2 linked regions of the Homo sapiens genome follow. The protein of the gene in region 2 interacts with the protein of the main gene of each other region in a biochemical or structural test. Each region holds a gene or a part of one and is shown on either strand. Other genes may lie near its edges.

Region 1 (3,652 bases), about 38 Mb from region 2:
GCAGGGGGACCCGGTCCCTTCTGCTGCTAAAACAATCTCAGGCACTGAGCAGCCACTACTCCATGGCCAAAAGCAAGTCACTGCAGGACAATCTGGCCGAGGGCAGAAACCTGGCTGGAGAAGGGTAGCGGGAAACAGGTAAGGAGATCTCTGGCGCCTGCAGGAGTTCAAATACTTGCTCCAGAAAAAGGAAGAGGCCAAGTGGAGGCCACTCAGAAATGCCCCAGGCTGGGGACAGACGCTTCGTGTGACTGAGGGGCAAGCTGGGGATGCTTCCGTGGAGGCAGGGCGCCATCCTCCACCCACAGCACACCCACTGTCCAGGGCAACAGGCTGCAAGATCGCAGGTGTCTGAGGCCCTCCTGGACTCAAGCTCGGCACCCAGCTCTGCCTAAGGGCTGCTGGACTCCGAGGGATGCACCACATTCCAGCAAGGTGCCGGGAGACACAGCCGCATCTGAAGACCCAGATTAGAGAACGGAGCTGCTGTGGGATACGGGAGGCCGCTCTGCATGTGACCGGTTCTGATCCTTTCTGGCTGCCCAGGAGAGAAGAACTCTGAGCAGGGAGAGACGGGAGGTGCCCAAGCACCCAAGACCACAGCCTGCTCAGCCGCACCACTCTGGAGTCCAGGGCAGCCCCTGGACATCTGGACCTTCGACCTCGAGGACAAACCACCGAGGGGCCACGTACTAGTGTGAGCGCTTCATAGAACTTATTCACCTGAGATGTGGCAACGTCGGGAAACGCAAATGCAAAATCACCTCTAGCTGCTCAGTCCTCCGGAAGCCACTGAAAGAACGGGGCGCTGGCTGGGGCCTCTCCACCCTGAAGCGGATGTGCCAGGGAGGGCCACGGGGCACGGGCCAGGCACCAGGACAGGATGGACATGGGGGCCAATGAGGCCCATGACAAGCTGCAGGCCCTTACGCTGCTCTGATGTGGGTGTGGCAGTGCCCATCAGCCCGGCTCTGGCCCTCCTGGCAGCTGGAGGGTGCTCGGCCCTTAGATGTCCTTGACTGTGCCCGCGGCCCTTGTGACCTTGGAGCCCCCAGCGCCGTCCCCGGTATCGGCTGGCAGGGGAAGGCTGCATTGGGAAGGTTTCAGCTCAGCCCCCTGGTCCTTACCCTGGCCACAACCCACGTGGGTTCCCCTGGCCCGGGCTAGGCGGCTCTGACAGTGCTACCCCCACCGGGCTGGCCCCCCCGTCAGCCGTCACCACAGGAAGTGAGAGATGAAGACGGGAGGGGAGGGAGGCGCCGGGGCTGGCTTCCTGGTGCAGGAGCAGAGACCGCGATTACTCAACAGGAAAGAGAGAGGGCCCCGGCCCCCACCCTCTGCAGAACCCGTGGGCTGAGGCTGCCCATCAAGTGACCCCGGCTCCAGGGCGGCCCAAGCAGGCGGGTACCTTTTTGTTGCAGCCTCGACAGGGCGCTTTGTAGGATGAGAGCTGCTTCTCCACGTGGGTGGCCTTGTCCACCTTCTTGGGGTCGAAGGGCAGGCGGCAGAGTGGGCACAGCGGGGATGGCACCTGCAGGCAGGGCTGGAGACACTCCCCGCAGAACCTGCAGGGCACAGGGGCCTGAGTGCCAGCCCGCCCCTCGGGTCTCCCGAACCGCAGGCCTTGCTCGGGGCCCTTCTTAGGACCCAGCATTTGTGGGGTCCACAGGGGCAGCTCCCCCTACCGCTGTCGCCGTCTCTGGAGATGGTCACTCCTATGTCCGGGGCCCACCAGCTGGATGGGCCCCATCTGGCTAAAGGGTGGCCCCGGTCCCTCCTGACAGTAGGCCCCTGTGGTTTCTGGCTAGCGGCAGAGCCGTCACTATGGCTGTCCCCGCGAGTGGGCCAGAGGAGCTCCCATAGGCAGGAGGCCCCAGCTCGGGCTACCAGGTTCACGTTCACGTGGCGACAACACCTGGGTGGGCTGTGGGGCGCAGGGACAGCCCGGGGACTCTGGAAACTCTCCCGGCTCCACACTCTGGGGGATAAAACCTCAAACAATCGTGGGAAAGGAAACGGCCAGGCCCCAGGGGCTCCAGATGCACTGGACAGGGAAGGGCCAAAGCTAGCCAAGTGGCAGCACATCCTGAGGCTGGGTGGCAGTCACCAGGCTTGGGACAGCTTCGCAGGCAGGAGGGGGTCCTGCTCCATCTGGGCGGAGGCTCGGGTCCTGGGCACCCATGGGCCCTGGCTCTTGGCACTGCCCCTGGGGACACCACATCGTGAGGACAGACTGAGCGTCCCACAGCCCCGTGCGCACTCCGGGCTCCAGCAGCAGGGGCTTCCTTGGGCTCGCACACCCTCCCGCTCTGCAGACGCACACAGCCCTTGGAGGGGTGCACCACCAGCCAGTGGGAGCACCAGGCGCGAGAGCCCCCAGTGCAAACACAGAGAAGGAGCTTAATACTGGGGCAGCCACATCTGGCCTTGTGAGGAGCACTGTGGGGACAGCTGAGCTGCGGCGAGGAGCTGGAACTGAGGCAGAGCCCCCCAGTCCCAGGAAGGCTACAGCACCCGGGGGTGTAGCTTCCCTTCTCCCTGGCAAGGCCACAGGGCTGGTACAGGAGCCCCACTGGACAGAGGGGCTGTGGGCAGGCCCTGGGTTCACAAACGACTCAGCTGAATTCAGGGCCAGAGTCCTCTTTGCTGTCAAGAGATTTCCACATCCCTCAAGAAAAGGCCCTTTCTGCAAGGAGGAAGTCTGAGGGCCTCAGGCAAAGGTGGCCAAGCAGGCATCTTAAGTCCCTCCTGCTGTCCCCCAGGCCCTCTTTGCCACCACTGGATTCCCACAGAGCCACCACCTGGCTGGTGGCTCCCACATGAAACTTCGTGTGAGAGAAAGCGGGACTCAGCTTGAGACCCGTCAGAAAGTGAACAAGCCTTTTTCTGCAGAGTAAAGAGGTCGCTCACTTTACCCACCTCACCCGAGTTCTCACCAGGCGCCCCAGCAGATATTTCCAGGGTCATCCCTGGCACTGACCCCTGGATTTGAGCCGGGGGGGCCGCCTACTTCACCCGTTCACGGGAGGAAGGTGCTGGCAAGATGGTCCACCTGGGGAGGCCTCAGGGGACCCCCATACTCAGGCACTCATGGCAGGAGAAGCGGAAGCAGCTCAGGTGCCCGTCGGTAAACGGATGAAGAGACGGCGTGGCGTGCACACCCATGGAAAGGGCGTTCGGCCGGGAAGAGGCGTGCAGCCCCACCACGCACCGGAAGGCCTGGAAAACAGTGCAGGGCAGACAGCAAGCACGTCCCACCCGTGTCGTGGGGGTCCACTCACGCTCAACGTCCAGCAGAGAGAAACCCAGTGACCAGAAAGCAGACGGGTGGGTGCCAGGCGAGGGGGAGAGTCCTGGGTTTCTTTCTGGAGTGGGAAGAATCTTCTAGAATTGCATCGATTGTTGCATAATTGCAAACACACTGGAAACGACTGGATGGTGCACCTCCTGAGTGAACCCTGAGCTGCCAGAGACCAGGCCGGGGCTCGGCTGCACAGCACGGCCACGGGCTGAGGGGAAGGAAAAGGGTCCCAGGCAGAGCTTGGGAAGAGAGGAAAGGTGCCCAGAAGGTTGGCTGGGAGGAAGACAGCCTCGTCCTCCCCGGAAGGACTCAGGAAAGACACAAGAGGGAACCCAGCCCGACTGGCAGGGC
Region 2 (3,652 bases):
GGCCACACTTGCTGGTTAATGCATTACCACTGCATCCTGACTCAAGAGAAAACCTTCAGCTGCTCCAGGATTCAGAATAAGATGAACAGTCTTTCTCCCCTCCTCCCACCTCTTCTCCCCAGAAAGGTCTGAAGGGGAACGGAGAAGGGCAATGCGAACACCCTGCAGGAAGCCTCAGTCTAAAACCCTAGTCTCTGTCAAGAGGGGCAATCCCCTGACACCCGCAGAATCCTGGTCTTCATAAGGCCCCACACACATCTGCTTTAAGGGGTTTACATTCCTTCTTCCTCTGCCTCCTCTTTTGCAGTGAGTTTTCATTTTAACATCGCTTTCTCCTCCCCGACTCCTCACCTGCTTTGGGGAATTCAAATGTTATCTTCATTAATGGAGAATTGCACCAAACCCTAGAGAAAGGAGTATTATTTTAAATTACAGGCCTTATAGCCTACCTACTTTAAAAAGACCTCTTACTTTATGACAAGGATTTGTTATCCCAGAGAAAAATCTTCCCATATAATTTTTAAATTTTCATTATAAAGTAGCAAATGGTAAGAAATAATGTAATTTTTTTCTTTAACTTTGCCTTAGAATTTTGTTTTCATTTTTTTGGCTCCTAGAATCTCAATTTCCTCTAAATAAATAAAAGGGGAAGAAAATATCCAGGTAAATAACATCAAATATCCTCTTAAGTCTTACTTGTATTTAAAGACTACTAACACCTCTAGGAAACAAACAGCAGGTTGAGGTACACAGACTAAAATGCATTTCTTACACAAATTAGTATGTAAACACAGAGAAACAGTATGATAAACATCCAAGTACCCACATTTACGTAGAATAATACAGTAACGTTACATGACCACAAAATCACAAAAAGTGAAGGAAGCTTTGAGATCTTCCAGTTAGCAGATTTCACACCTGGCTGGTCACGAGATTCCCCTGGGGATTCCCTCACAGATTTCCTAGGCCTCTTCCTGAACAGTCGGATTCAGCAGGCATGGCCTAGGACCCAGGAATTTGTATTTTTTTCCCATACAATTCAGTAGTCTAACCCTCTCATTATGCAGAGGAGGAAACTAAAGCTCAAGAGGTCAAGCTGTTGTCTAAGTGTACAGAGCAAGTGACAGAAACAGGGCTAGAATGCAGGTCTCTCGTCCCTACTCTGCCACTTTTTCTGTCACAGCACACCACCTCCCAAAGCTTCCCCTAGACCTGTCACCCTTACCCTTCAGCTAAGTAGCCTTTAATAGATATTCTGTCGTTAAAACTAGGTAGGGCAGGGACACATTTCATATTCCCTCTGATACAATCCTAGGCACCTAGTAAGTGTCCGATAAATACTTCTTGGTTGGCAGTTACTCAGCAAAAGTCTAATACTTTATCCTCCACTCACATCTCAGTCTACAATCATCCAAGCAGATGCAAAATTATCTGGCCAGATAATTTTCAAGATCCAGCTATAGAGGGTAGTGAATCCTGAATCTATGAAGATGCCATGTTCAAACAAGCAGGAATTTGGGTGACAACACAGTTCTATAAGATTAATGGAATCTTAATCTTCCATACTATCTCTCCCCCTTGTTCTCAAAATCTGTGAAAAAAAATAATAAAGGAATCCTAGGGATAGGAAGAATCTGGCCATTTATCTACAGCATTTGGCAAACAGAAATTTTTAAAAATCCTAAATTATTCTAAGGAGAAAATCCTTAGCAACAGTAACAACATATTTAGTTGATTTTTGTTGCTGTTTATCCTAGTTTTCAACGTGTTTTCCTAGTCTTATAAAACATTCTTCTGTGGATGGAGTCAAACTCCTTTATAAAGCTGACAGTGAGGGATGGGACACATTTAGCCTCTCTATGTATGATAACACTGCTCTCCTTCCCCACTCTCTCCCTCTCCGCCACATACATATATACACACACACAGACACACACATATTTATTTGGAGGTGAGGAACATGACATATTTTCTACTTGTAATCATGAATCATGAATCACGAACCGTGTTATAAATAAGATAATTCAATTACATTGTCATCTTGATTGTAGATAAGGAATAAAAGATAACCAAAACCTTTAAATAGCCAACAGGAAAATATTAAAGAAAACTTAAGGCTGAAAATTAAATAACCAGCAGGCACATAAGCCCCTGTGCCATGCAGCCCAGCCCCAACTATGTGCCTCTTGACAAACCAGGCTGTGCTGAAGCACAGAACAGTAGGGGGCTACCCAGAGGGAGCCAGGACAGACAGGTGCAGGGGAAACCTTCCTGCTGCCTCATGACATGCAGAAGCAGGGAAGGACGCAGCCTCCCCAGGAACCACCAGAGCTGGCCCTGGCATCCCTTAATGAGCACTCCCTCCCCAAGTAACATTAAAAAGACGTCAAGCTCCACCTGAAGAAGACGTTGCCAGAAATCATTTATGGATGAGGCCCTCCCATTTAACAGTCTCCACACCTGACTTTTGAAACCAGGTGTCCATCCAAACAGGTCTTCTTCAAGTTCTCTACCATGACAGCCTGGGTAGCAGAGCTTCCTCAATTTGTATTTTGTTTTAATTTCTACAGGAAAGGAACTGTCTTCTCTCTCCTTTTTTTTTTTTTTTTCCAACTGTTAAATCCAGTCTTACCTAGATCGTCAGCCCTTAGTATCTGCAGGGGTTTGGTTCCAGGATCCCTGCAGATACCAACATCTGAAGATGCTCAATTCCCTGATACAAAATGGTACAGAATTTGCATATAACTGACACACATCCTCCTGTATATTTTAATTAAATAATCTCTAGATTACTTATAATACCTAATAAATGTAAATGCTACATAAAGAGTTCTTGTATTGTTCAGAGAATAATGACAAGAAAAAAGTCTGTACATGTTCAATACGGATGTAACCATCCTTTTTTTAAAAAAAATCGTATTTTCCATTTGCAGTTGGTTGAATCCATGGATGAGAAACCTGCAGATACCGAGGGCTGGCTTCATTTAGATTCCTAATCATTCCTCCAGGTAGTCAATTTTTTAAAATCACATTGACAAGCTCATTCACCCATTTCTTCATTCAACACATATTTATTACAGGGTGATTGGACTTCTAGGCTGTCAGAGCTAGAAAAGGCCTTATGCATCTTTTACCCCACACCCTTCATTTTACCCAAGGGAGATGGAGGCAGGGCTAGCCCTAAACCCAGAGTCTCTCAGCCTCACCCCTGATCTAATCATCATCTCACCACCCCAACCAAGCACTTAGCAGTATAAAACCTTGTGCAAAATATATGTACTTTTTCACTTCAAAAATGAAAATATTACAAGATGAGTTTTTGTACCTTACTGTAATTTATAAAGCTAGTAAATATTAGCAAAATGGAATGATAAAACCAAAGAGTAAAAGTGCCTTTAAAAAAGTAATTGCAGGGTTTGTAAAGATTCTTTCCACTTTTTGTCACATTAAATATTTTATAAAGTCATATGACATATACATATGATGACTTTTCTGCCTTTCTGCACAGTTAGAAAGTCATTCAGGAAAGACAATGATACCACAAAACAACACTCAGAGAATGCACATTCCACAGCACTGACATGTATCATCTATGGTCCTGGTCTACAACATCCGCTGTGGTCTAAACACACACTATGGCTGTTATTAAACA

The links.
Region 1: the proteins of CYLD (region 2) and RNF166 form a complex in vitro, tested with the Homo sapiens proteins (one study listed by BioGRID).

The regions. Positions count from the first base shown.
Region 1 is NC_000016.10:88,699,854-88,703,505, forward strand, and holds part of RNF166 (E3 ubiquitin-protein ligase RNF166), read right to left. Parts: exon of another isoform or gene 2,937-3,652; intron 1,566-2,936; coding exon 1,409-1,565; intron 1,098-1,408; exon of another isoform or gene 1,088-1,097; coding exon of another isoform or gene 767-1,087; exon of another isoform or gene 1-766. UniProt on the Homo sapiens protein: E3 ubiquitin-protein ligase that promotes the ubiquitination of different substrates. In turn, participates in different biological processes including interferon production or autophagy.
Region 2 is NC_000016.10:50,797,572-50,801,223, reverse strand, and holds part of CYLD (ubiquitin carboxyl-terminal hydrolase CYLD), read right to left. Parts: 3' UTR 1-3,652. UniProt on the Homo sapiens protein: Deubiquitinase that specifically cleaves 'Lys-63'- and linear 'Met-1'-linked polyubiquitin chains and is involved in NF-kappa-B activation and TNF-alpha-induced necroptosis.